Linked DNA regions of Homo sapiens: regions 1 and 2 are each linked to region 3. Evidence: fine-mapped QTL for protein levels in blood plasma. A gene starts in region 3. Each other region holds a variant in brackets. All regions are shown on one strand. Distances are between the middles of the regions. Region 1 overlaps MYOM2 (myomesin 2). Region 2 has its middle 260 kb from the start of MIR7160. Region 3 holds the start of MYOM2 (myomesin 2).

What was found. PIP is the posterior inclusion probability: the model's chance that the variant is causal. The UK Biobank Pharma Proteomics Project read protein levels with antibody pairs (Olink). The fine-mapping took linkage between variants from a reference panel, not from the people measured, so its PIPs are less certain.
Region 1: its variant is fine-mapped to the plasma level of the MYOM2 protein (UK Biobank, PIP above 0.99). The variant lies in the coding sequence of MYOM2. If it changes the protein, the assay may bind it differently, which can mimic a change of level.
Region 2: its variant is fine-mapped to the plasma level of the MYOM2 protein (UK Biobank, PIP above 0.99).

What each region holds. Positions count from the first base shown.
Region 1 is chr8:2,103,922-2,108,160 of GRCh38, reverse strand. MYOM2 (myomesin 2) reads right to left here. Exons shown (of 37, transcript NM_003970.4): 22 at 1,763-1,919; 23 at 1,564-1,670. Among named protein-coding and RNA genes, the nearest start is that of MIR7160, 29 kb to the right of the region's middle. RefSeq lists an enhancer at 1,370-2,568. The variant T/C (reference allele first, on the strand shown) is at 1,874.
Region 2 is chr8:2,334,868-2,339,106 of GRCh38, reverse strand. No RefSeq gene overlaps it. Among named protein-coding and RNA genes, the nearest start is that of MIR7160, 260 kb to the right of the region's middle. RefSeq lists enhancers at 1,095-1,833, 1,834-2,572. The variant G/A (reference allele first, on the strand shown) is at 2,109.
Region 3 is chr8:2,042,777-2,047,015 of GRCh38, reverse strand. MYOM2 (myomesin 2) reads right to left here and starts at 1,970. Exons shown (of 37, transcript NM_003970.4): 1 at 1,848-1,970.

The DNA.
Region 1 (4,239 bases), 61 kb before region 3:
TCTTAAAATTAGAATCAGAAAGAAGATGGTGATCTCCAAGGCCTTCAAGAACATGTCTATTCAAAATGGAAAAATGAAGTTAGATTTTTCTGCCCAAAAGTAAATTCATATTGGCAACTGGTTTCACAGGGAGGACTGGCTTTCCCAGTTCAACCTTCTGGTAGGAATTTCCATACATGGAATGAACTAAATCTTCAACTGCAAAGTTTTACCTCAAATATATTTGAAGTCTATACACAATATAAGAGAAGGTGGAATTTTTTCTTTTGCAAGTATTTAAAAAAGTTAAAATTAAGATGGAAACTTTGAAATGGTGCAGAGGAATGCACAGCTTTTCAGAAGTCCTTCAGGATGTCGTGAAGGTACAAAACTGTGTCAAGACCCTGGAGGCAGGGCCAACAGAGGCTGCTTTAAAAGCATGCAAATGGATTTTGGGTCCTTCCCCACCCTGCCTGTGAGTGGTGAACTGAGGACCCCAGAAAGGCGAGACAGTGCGGCCTCCTCATTTGTCTGCCTGTGTCTTGTTAAATGTGCATGAGTTTTCCTGAATTTCACCAACATTGAGCCAAACCTGCACACTCGAGAAGCCGAGAGTGTGATTCTGGCTTCCCCCTCCGTGGATACCTGCCCATCCTCCTGCCCAGCCCACAGCACCGATCCTGGGTCGGATGTTCTCAGATCACAGCCTCTGCATGATATCAACCAGGACAGTGATTGATAACTAAAGGATCTGCTTGTAAACCTTAGGACTCCCCTGGAGATCATTTATGCCATCCCTGGAGAGCACTTTAATAGAAAACTTTTGGAAATTCAAATGCCTTAGACACCCAAAGAAACCCAGAAATCTGAGGATACCATCCAGCCCTACGAGTTCACGCTGCACCACTGCCCCTTCGTTTAAAAATGTCTAAGGCTGACGCTGTCCTGTGGGTGGGGTAGATGACGGGCCACACAAATACACGTGATGCTAGGCAGTTTAAAAAAATCAGCCCTGCCTGCATGAGACTGTGTGCCTGGTGAACTCAGACCTGTGAACCTATCTAAGAAAACTATTGTTTTTCCCCTTGATCACTAAACAGACTTTTCTCACTTCTCTCTGCCGTCTTCCATGGGTAACACAGCAGCAGATTTTCACTTCGTCAGTTAAAATTATTTTACATGCATAAAAAAATTTTTCTTTGATCATCTGATTTCTCAGTGTTGGAAGGAAGGGAAGACTCTTCCACCCGTAGGTCTCTCATTAATTTCATGGATTTCTTAGTTAATATGTTACCCTCTGCATACCAAACTATTAAAATGTGGCTAAGACTCAACTTTAAAAGTACAAATTGAAGGCTATACAAGCAATATATCAGGACCAGAGACTACTTGGTGGAAACAGTATAAACTTTAGAGTTTGTTTAATTTCTAAAGCAAGTTTTGGCTTATATACATAGCCCCCACCGCCAGCCTCCTGCAAACATACGTCTTTTTTCTAAGCAAGTAAGTCTTTTCTATGTTGGTGTCAATCTTTGAAAGTGTGATAAAACCAAAACAGGCAAGGTTCTGCCATATAAATATTACCTTCTGGGTCCAGAACAAAACTGGAGGACACTCCGTCTGTATCACTTACAGACACGGAGTAAGTCCCTAAATCCTCCTTATCCGGATTCTTTAAGTACAGCTTGGAGCTAAAAAGGAAGAAGAGTAGGTGAATGTCGATCATTTCTGTTTGCAGGAACTTCTAAAAGTTTCCAGTATCCAACTTCCAGGCCTCACTTACTGATCCCCCACGGTTTCAATTTTAAACCTCTCATCATCTGAAATCTCCTCGTAGGATTTACACCAGGTGAACTGAGACGCGTCTGTCATTTCCTGGCAGTCGAAGCCCAGA[T/C]AGATGTTGCCTTGTTCATCGACACCAGCACTGATTTCCTTGGTGCCTGCATAAGAAGAGTATGAAGTGAGCGGCTTAGGGACACGGTGTTCTTTCAACTCTCTTTTGGGAGAGGGTGATATGGTTTGGCTCCGCGTCCACACCCAAATCTCATCTCAAATTGTAATCCCCAAGTGTAGAGGGAGTGAGGTGATTGGATCACGGGGGTGGTTTCCCCCATGCTGTCCTCATGATAGTGACTGAGTCTTATGAGATCTGATGGTTTTAGAAGCACCTGGCATTCCCCCTGCTGGCACTCACTCTGTCCTGCCGCCCTGTGAAGAAGTGCCCTCTGCCATGACTGTAAGTTTCCTGAGGCCTCCCCAGCCACGAAGGACTGTCAGTCAATTAAACCTCTTTTCTTTATAAGTCACCCAGTCTCAGATATTTCTTCATACCAGCGTGAGAACGGACTAATGCCGAGGGGGTACCCAATGCAGAGACCTCATCTTACACCAAATCATCAGTTGCATTTAATGACCCAGGACTGATGAGAGAATCGTGAGAGAGAAAACACTTTAGGGAGGACCTGGAGGGGCTTGGTTGTTTTGTTGTTGCTAATTTTTTTTAATTTACCATATTTCTGCACACGTCCTTCCCTGCATCTCATACAACTGCAGAAAACCTCTTAGGGCTGCCTCTCCAGGCCCTGAAGATCCTGTTCTCTCTGGAATCTCCTTCTCTGACCCTCAGGGGAAGCCCAGCAGCCATGTGCCCACCATGAAGCTCCCCCTTCACACAGCTCTGCCTTCTCCATGGGGCCTTGCCTTGTCTTGTTTGGGAGTAGGGGTTGTTTGTGGTTTATTTGCTACTTTTTGACCCAGGTGAACATCTGGCCGTGTGCAAGGCAGAATCTATGTCGTAGGAATTAGGAATTGGACGAGACACATCTCAGCCTCTGCTGGTGAGTGGAACTGAGGCCATGAAGTGTCAGTGCTCTCGGGTTATGAAGAAGACACAGATGCAAGGAAAGCCAGGTGGCAGGGTGAGATGAAGAGGCCACCACAGACAGCCATCAGGATCTTTACAGTCTGAGGCTGCACTGCTTCCTGACACTCAGGTCACACTCTGGGGCTGTGGTTTGGATGTGGATGATCCCCTCAAAACTCACATTGAAATGTAAAAGCCAGTGCAACGGTGTTGGGAGGTGGAGCCTTTAAGAAGTGATTAATGACTGGGGGCAGCACTCATGCCTGTAATCCCAGCACTTTGGGAGGCCGAGGCCAGAGGATCGCTTGAGCTCAGGAGTTCAAGACCAGCCTGGGCAACATAGTGAGATCCTGTCTCTATAAAAAACAGAATAATAAAAATTCTTTTTAAAAGAGGTGATTAGGTCGTTAAGATAGACTCGTGTCTTTCTGGAAAGACTGGGTAGATTCTTGCTAATAACCACGGCTGCTGGTTGGTTAAACTGGAATGGAGTAGTTCCAGTGAGAGTAAATGTTATAAAGCAAGGCTGCCTCCCATGCTGGGTCCGTTTCCGCACACACCCAGTTCTCTACCATGTTGTGGGGCAGCGGGAGGCCCTCACCGGAGCCACCAGAGCTGCCGGAGCCACCACAGCAGATCCCGGCACTGTGCTTCTTAGACTTCCCGCCTCCAGAATCATGAGCCAAATAAACTTTTTTTTTCTTTTTTTTTTTTTAAATGGAGTCTTGCTCCGTTGCCCAGGCTAGAGTGCAGTGGCGCGATCTCGGCTCACTGCAACCTCCGCCTCCCAGGTTCACCCCATTCTCCTGCCTCCGCCTCCTGAGTAGCTGGGACTACAGGCGCCCAACACCATGCCCAGCTAATTCTTTTTGTATTTTTTAGTAGAGACGGGGTTTCACTGTGTTAGCCAGGATGGTCTCGATCTCCTGACCTCGTGATCCGCCCGCCTCGGCTTCCCAAATTGCTGGGATTACAGGCGTGAGCCACCACACCCACGCCCCAATAAACTTTTAAAAACAATTACCCAGCCTCGGTGTTCTGTTACAGCAACACAAAATAGACTGTGTATCCTATGAGTGTGTGTCCTGCCTTCAGAAGTATTTGCCCTTTTTAGGTTGACTCCAGGGAACTTTTATTCGTTGAAATCAAGAAAATTACCAACAGCTTTTTAAAATTTTCTGATAAAAATCCAGCAGTAATATTTAAAAAATGCCCTCCTTCCTGCACGTGGCTTGACGATTCGAAGAACAACCCCTGCCAAGCATGAAGATGACCCAAAGTGCTCTCCTTCTCATCCAGGGCCATTAGTGCACAGGCAGAGATTTAATTGCATACTTCATTTGCCATCCAAATCTTTTTAAAATAACGGCAAGACATCCGTTCATTTATCCGTACAC
Region 2 (4,239 bases), 290 kb before region 3:
TCTTTATCCAATTTGCTATTCTGTGACTTTTAATTGGGGCATTTAGCCCATTTATATTTAAGGTTAATATTGTTATGTGTGAATTTGATCCTGTCATTATGATGCTAGCTGGTTATTTTCCCCATTAGTTGATGCAGATTTTTCATAGTGTTGATGGCCTTTACATTTTGGTTTGTTTTTGCAGTGGCTGGTACTGGTTTTTCCTTTCCATATTTAGTGCTTCCTTGAGGAGCTCTTGTAAGACAGGCCTGCTGGTGACAAAACCCCTCAGCATTTTCTGGTCTGTAAGAGATTCTATGTCTCCTTCACTTATGAAGGTTAGTTTGGCTGGATATGAAATTCTGGGTTAAAAATTCTTTTATTTAATAATGTTGAATCTTGGCCCTCACTCTCTTCTGGCTTGTAGGGTTTCTGCAGAGAGATCCACTGTTAATCTGATGGGCTTCCTTTTGTGGGTAACCCAACCTCTGTTTCTGGCTGCCCTTAACATTTTTTCCTTCATTTCAAACTTGGTGAATCTGATGATTATGTGTCTTGGGGTTGTTCTTCTCCAGGAGTATCTTTGTGGTGTTCTCTGTATTTCCTGAATTTGAATGTTGGCCTGTCTTGCTAGACTGGGGAGGTTCTCCTGGATAATATCCTGAAGTGTGTTTTCCAACTTGGCTCCATTCTCCCCGTCACTTTCAGGTACACCAATCAAACGTAGGTTTGGTCTTTTCACATAGTCCCATAGTTCTTGGAGGCTTTGTTCATTCCTTTTCATTCTTTTTTCTCTAATCTTGTCTTCATGCTTTATTTCATTAAGTTGATCTTCAATCTCTGATATGATTTCTCCCACTTGATCAATTCTAGTATTGATACTTGTATATGCTTCACGAAGTTTTTGTGCTGTGTTTTCAGCTCCATCAGTTCATTTATGTTCTTCTCTAAACTGGATATTCTAGTTAGCAATTCTTCTAACCTTTTATTAAGGTTCTTAGCTTCCTTGCATTGGGTTAGAACATGCTCCTTTAGCTCAGAGGAGTTTATTACCCACCTTCGGAAGCCTACTTCCATCAATTTGTCAAACTCATTCTCTGTCTAGTTTTGTTTCTTTGCTGGTGAGGAGTTGTGATCCTTTGGAAGAGAAGCAGCATTCTAGTTTTTGGAATTTTCAGCCATTCTGTGCTGGGTTTTCCTCATCTTTGTGGATTTATCTACCTTTGGTCTTTGCTGTTGGTGACCTTCGAATCCTTTTTGTTGATGTTATTGCTTTCTGTTTGTTAGTTTTCCTTCTAACAGTCAGGACTCTCTTCTGCAGGTCTGCTGGAGTTTGCTGGGGGTCCACTCCACACCCTGTTTGCCTGGGTATCACAAGGGGAGGCTGCAGAACAGCAAAAATTGCTGCCTGCTCCTTCCTCTGGAAGCTTCATCCCAGAGGGGAACCTGCCAGATGGCAGTTGGAGCTCTCCTGTATGAGGTGTCTGTCAACCCCTGCTGGGAGGTGTATCCCAGTCAGGAGGCATGGGGGTCAGGGACCCACTTGAGGAGGCAGTCTGACCCTTAGCAGAGTTTGAATGCTGTGCTGGGAGAGCTGCTGCTCTCTTCAGAGCCGGGACGCAGGAACGCTTAAGTCTGCTGAAGCTGCACCCACAACTGCCTCTTCCCCCAGGTGCTCTGTCCCAGGGAGGTGGGAGTTTTATCTATAAGTCCCTGACTGGGGCTGCTGCCTTTCTTTCAGAAATGCCCTGCCCAGAGAGGAGGAATCTAGAGAGGCAGTCTGGCTACAGCGACTTTGCAGCTTGGCAGTGTTCTCTGCCCAGTCTGAACTTCTGGTGTCTTTGTTTACACTGCGAGTAGAAAACCGCCTACTCAAGCCTCAGTAATGGCAGACACCCCTCCCCCAACCAAGCTCAAGCATCCCAGGTTGACCAGACTGCTGTGCTGGCAGCTAGAATTTCCAGCCAGTGGATCTTAGCTTGCTGGGTTCTGTTGGGGTGGGATCCACTGGAGCAAGACCACTTGGCTGCCTGGCTTCAGCCCCCTTTCCAGGGGAGTGAATGGTTCTGTCTCGCTGATGTTCCAGGCGCCACTGGGGTACAAAAAAAGACTCCTGCAGCTAGCTCGGC[G/A]TCTGCCCAAATGGCGGCCCAGTTTTGTGCTTGAAACTCAGGTCCATTGTGGTGTAGGTACCCGAGGGAATCTCCTGGTGTGTGGGTTGTGAAGACTGTGGGAAAAGCATCGTATCTCGGCCTGACAGCACCATCTCTCACAGCACAGTCCCTCACGGCTTCCCTTGGCTAGGGGAGGGAGTTACCCAGCCCCTTTTGCTTCCTGGGTGAGGCAATGCCCCACCCTGCTTCTGCTCACCCTCCATGGGCTGCACCCACTGTCTAACCAGCCCCAATGAGACGAACCAAGTACCTCAGTTGGAAATGCAGAAATCACCCACCTTCTGCGTTGGTCTCGCTGGGAGCTGCAGACTGGAGCTGTCCTATCTGGCCATCTTGCCTGGGAATCCCCAGTTTCCATATCTTTTAATCTAGGCAACATTTTGCTTCACTAGACATGGAAAATACATCTGTGGTATATTAAAGTGATGAATGCACATTGGTGTAGTAATCTCAGCAGGCTTCAGTCATTTTTTTGTTAGATATTAATTTCTTGAAGGAAAAGAAAATAGATTATTTTGGATATATGATCTGTCTTCTAGGAGAAGTACTAATTAATCCCGAAAAACAGATGTACTGTAAAGAAAATCAATAAAAGCTCTCTAAAAACTCACAGACTCAGGGATTAGATTTGTCCAATATTTCTTTGTTACATTGAATAAACTCTCCACTTCATGATTCAAAATCAATAATAAACTGTATTACTTATGTATAAACAAACTCACTGTGAGGGATTTCACTCTTCATATATGTTTTATAGATGAATTTTAGAAGCAGCCTACTTGTTTGTAGATTATGAAAATATTACTTTAACATACAAATAGGAATACAGAATATTTGAATAACAACAATATTAGAATATAGCTAAATGTGCTACGAAAATACTACTGTTCACTCATTCAGCAAATAGTTATTGAATACTGTCCTGAGCTTTTCCTGCTGCTATAACAAAATTTCTTAGACTGAATAATTTATAAAGTCCTGAAATTGATTTTTCATAGTTCCGGAGGCTGGGAAGCTCAACGTCAAGGTGCTGGCAGATTTAGTGTCTGACGAGGGCTGTCTTCATTCCAGCCAATCAGAAGAGGAAAAGAGCACAGATGCTCAAACATGCAATTTTTCATGAGCCAAGTTTGAAAGAGGTATAAATCTTCTATACTCACATCCCATTGGTCAATTCCATCTTAACGTATCACCCACTTAAAAGGGGATGAGAAATGTGGCTTCTGGCTGAGTGTTCATTTTCCAGCATTGTCTTACATTACGAAAGTGGAAAAAGGGAATTTTGTGAACAGCAAAACGTGGCTCCTCCAACTTCAACCTTCTTGAGTTTTGTAAGGTTGGTGGACTGGACAGGAATTTTTTTTTAATATTTTTATTCCTTCGTAATATTTATTGCCTCGTAATATTTATTCCCTTTTCTGTCTTGTATGGTTTTGGCATCTGAATTTTCCTAGTGTTACAGAATAAAATTGAGAGTTTGCCCTCTCTTTCTGTACCTTAGAATTATTCATAGAAAGTATATTGCTCTGTTCTGTGACAACTTGGAAGAACAACTCTGTAAAACAATTTCAGCCAATTGTTTACTTAATAAAGAATTTTTAAACTGATTCCAGTGATATTTTGGTTTTCTATTCCTTTTTTATTCAATTTTGGTAAAATATTCTTAGCTATTTGGACATTTTATCTCAATTTTCTAATTTTATGGCAAAATAGCCTTTTATTACCCTGTCAATCTCTGTTGAATAGATGGTATGTCACTTTTTCATTTTTACAATTATTTATTCTGGAATTTCTCTTCCTTTTTTCTCCTAGATCTAGCTCAAGATAGGCCTATCACGATTTTGTTTGTTTGTTTTGTTTCTTTGTTTCAGCTTTTCAGAGGACAAAATTTTCACATTAATATTTTTATTTTTCATATACCTATTTTATTATCTTTATGATCTCCTTTATTAATTTGGATAATTGCGTTTTACTTTTTCTAAATTACTCTGTTGAACATTTTAAAATATAGTACCCATGGTATCATTTAGTTTAAAATACCCGATGAATCTATAACGTTAGTTATTCTTAAACCATAAATTGTTTAGTG
Region 3 (4,239 bases):
GATGCTCATGTAAGCATTTCCTTTGAGAGTCATACCAGCGCTCACAAAGTTTCAGAATTTAGAGCATTCTGGATTTCTGATCTTCAGATTTGGAATGATCAACCTGTACTATTTATGACACTATAAAGAAAATGACAGGACCTGGGCCGATCAGCTCCCCAATGTCCCTCTACTGTCTACATAGAAAGCTGTTTTCCTTTTTAAGGAACTATCTCAGACATGTGTTAAATACCCCCTACACACACCAACCAAAAAAAAAAAAAAGAAAAAAGAAAGAGAGAGAGAAAGAAAGCAGCTTTTCCTCGCAGGGTAGTTTTTGATGTGAGTCCCTGGGGCTCAGGCGCATTGGGAGGCTGAGACTCCAGTGGGGACCTGCTGACCTTCAGCTCAGGGGCCTCCACCTGCTCTGCTGTAAAACAGGGGGCTGAGTGAGGTGGCAGCTAACAGTCCCCCAGCTTGGACAGCCTGTGTGTAGATAATCCTGGCGCCACGCTGTACTGTTAGCACAGACCGTCCCCAGGGAAATATGACTTGCCCGGGTCACCGGTAGGGCCACGGCCGAACCCAGGCGCCAGCTGACTCTCCTGACAGCGTCCAGCCCACTTTCCACCACAGCCCAGCTCCCCGGCCACTCCCGGAATGCTCCTGACACGTTTAGGAATCATGACACCAGGATGAAACGCGAGCCTCTCCTCCAGTGCAGGGGACCACGTGTCTGATATCCCCATCCTAATTCCTTCCTGCAAACAACGTGTGGAGCCCATTCCTCATGTCACCAGGATGGGTTTTAATTTGCAAAAATGTTTGAAGTACAAAACATTGACTTCCACTTAATGAAGGAAATTGTTTGTACAGTTAAAAATGTCAAAGTCAATAAATACACCAAATTAAAGCTTTCTAGAGGGGAAAGGGACTCCCAGACACGCAGCGTTGGCCTGTGCCACAAGTGGCTAAGCCCTTGGCTCCCAAGACAAGTTTTAGCTTGGGACTTGGTTTATTAAATAACGCCTTAAATTATCTTTGTTCCACGCTTTCTTTGAGTCCTGTTTTACTTCTACTTAGTAAGAAAGGAATGTGAAATGGAGAATTAGAAAAGGCCAGGTGTTCCCAGTGATGGCAAACCCCTTCCTTCCGTTTGCCTCCGGTGCCTTCCACGTGCAACCACCCAGCCCCACTGTCTTTCTCCAGCAGGTTGCATTTCAAGAGCACGCCCTGAGAAGGCACAGCCTCTATCAGCGGAGTGGAGCTGAAGAAGTCTGAAGGGTCACAACACACCCAACAGCACAAAGAAGAAAACAGCCGTAAGAACGCTGTCATTTTTGGGCAAAAACTTGCAAGTCCTGACAAGGATTGTTCTCTTTCCCATACCGTGGATAATATAGGCTAGGTCTAAGCTGAATGACCCTCGACTCTTTTTTCCCTTAAGAAAATATCCAGTTTTATTATTTCACACCTTTATAAGTCAGCCCTCTCCTCGGGGGAGGCTTTCGTTTCTGAGAATCTCATGAAACTTGCAGACATCAGTCCACTGACTGGGGGGCCCCCTGGGGCCACGATGAGACCAGGGCTAAAACCCAAAGCACACGCCGCAGGGTGCTAAACGGCACTTAGCAAAGACCACGGCTGTGGGAAATAAAATGTTAGTTGAGCATAAAACCTCGTCAAAGAAATACAGATCCCAGAACTAATTGCTCTGTTTTCCACAGTAAAGGGTGCCTGCGACGGGGTGCACTGGCTCTCTCTTCTTGACCCTGAAGTAGAGGTACTTAGAAAATGTGAGTGCAGAAGTTACCGGTCCTCCCCTTAAAGCCACAAATTAGAAAAGGCAAGAAGAGAAAGACACTTACCCAGACAGAAAGGAAAATTGCAAGGAGGAGAGAGAATTCCTGACCACCGGCTCACCAAGCCACCCACACTCCAGCCGAGGAAGGCAGAGCTGACTCCTGCAAAGCAAGCGCCTGTGCCTCCCTCCCGTTTAAGGTCTGAGGAGCTACTATATATAGACGCCTGGGCCTGCCTCTCCCCACATCAATACCCACATCGTAAATCACCAGCCTGACCTCAGGAGGAAAAGCTTCTTGTTCAAACTGAGGGCGGGGGAAATCACGATTCAAAACTGGAACGTGTCCTTTCTGAGTCCCAAACTGCACTTTTCCCAGGAAACCGGGTGTGACACTTCAGCCCCCGACCCAGAAAGAGAGGGCAGGGCACTGACTTCCCACGCTCCCTCCCCGCAACTCTCCTCCATGAGTTCTAATCCTTACGTGTGAATTCTCAGACATATCTTCAATCCTTTCGAGCTACAGGTTCCCTGGCTCACAAATTGCAACTCCTGAATGAGTCTTTAATAATGACATGGATTTCAGTGAGCATTTGTGCCATTCGCAGGCCTGGACACCCGAGTTGAGGTCGGCTGTGGAGGGAGGGAGGTGCACAAGCCCCTGGGTTTGTGAGCGTGTGTGTGCATGTTCGTGTGTTTGTTCGTTTTTTTTTTTTTATTTCAAGAACGACTCAGGTCTTCACTCGATTGTATCTTAGGGCTATTTTAGCAAGAACTGCCTACCCAAAAGAGGAGCGGTGCCTAGTCGGCAAGTCGGGGCTTATTTATAGCCATTACCACAGACGTACACTGCGTCTACACCACACGGATAATTGCAGGGTGCCCGTCGTTTCGCACAGCGTGTGTCCAAATATAGATAACACACACCTGGCACGGTCCTGGGCTGCAGCCTGGCCAAGAGGCGGGGCCTCAAGGGGATGCCCCCATCTGAGGACCCGGAGAATCACACTCCAGCTGCACCTCACCACAGGGGCTGAGGACTTCGGCCAGCTGCTCAGCCCACGGGGGCTATGCTCCCCAGCTCTAAAACGCATGGAATAACAACTTTCCTGTAAGTTTGTTGTGACAAGTAGAGAAAATATGATAAGAGAATTGCCTTAAGAAACTCCACGTTCTCACACTGGGGTATCAGAGGCACAGCCAAGGACCAGCGAGCAGGTGGATGGAGGCGAAGATCAGATACGAGAAAGACGCGAGCACAGCCTCTTGCTGGGCCCCAGAGCGTTCTGGATGCTGGATCAGGAGGCGAGTGTTTCTGTCTTCTTCCCCTTCGTATTCTGATGGCCTAGCATTTAATTTAATTAGTGTTTGTTGAGTGATTTCTTAGTCTATTCAGGCTGCTTTAGCAAAACACCATAGACCGTGTAGCTTATAAAACACAGGAGCTTCTTTCCCACAGTTCTGGGGACTGGAAGTCCAAGATCCAGGTACCAGCAGACACTGCCTGGGGAGAGCCTTCTGGTTCTGGGACGGCGCGGTCCCTGAGTCCTCACCAAGTCAAGGGGCCAGGCCGCTCTTGGGGCCTCTGTATGAGGATACTGATCCCACTCGGGAGGTTCCACCTCCATGACCTTGTCACTTCCCTAAGGCCCCACCTCCTCACACCATCGTTTTGGGGGTTAGGGTTTTAACCCACATATTTTGGGGGGGTTGCAAACAGCAAGACCAGAGCAAGCAATGTTTACTTCCGGTTTATCAGCATCTCCTTCTCTAGCGAATCCATTTCTCAGGGACCTGGGGGACTTCCCTTCAGCCCTTCTGCCCCCCTGCCTCTGAGTGTGGCCGACACTGGAGGGGCAGTGATGGTGCCTCGTCCCCTCAGGTGGCATCTCAGTCCTCTGAGTCCCAGTCCTGGCATCTCAGTCGCCTGGGTCCCAGTCCTAGCATCTCAGGAGGGGACAATCTCATCCCGGGGAGGGGCCTCTCCTGAGAGAAGGAAGGGCCAGCACACTCCTCCTCCTTTTCTGACATTTCACGGTGGCTGTGCCCTCCTTCTGTGATATAGAAATCCAGTGCTGCGTCTAAGAAAGCCTGGATCTTTCAGCCACACCACCCAGAGAGCAGAGTGTGACCCGGGACACAGATAGGCTCCTGATGGGGACAGAGCTTCGCCTTCTGCTGGGGACAGGAGACCCCTCCCCACCCTCCTCGTAGACCCCCATCTCCCTGAGCCATGCCTGCCCCTGCCCACCCGGGATGTAGCTTCCAAAACTCCCTGGGTGAGGTGCACCTGCAGGAAGCCTGGAGCCAAGAAGGGACAAAAGACGGAGGGAGGCGGTGGGACCAGGCATGGGCCCCGCATTCTCCACCAGACACACCAGCTCTGGGGCAGACAGGCTCCTTCTTGCCGGAGTTCCTTGGGCTGACTTTCTATCATCGGCCATCAAGAGAATCCTGAC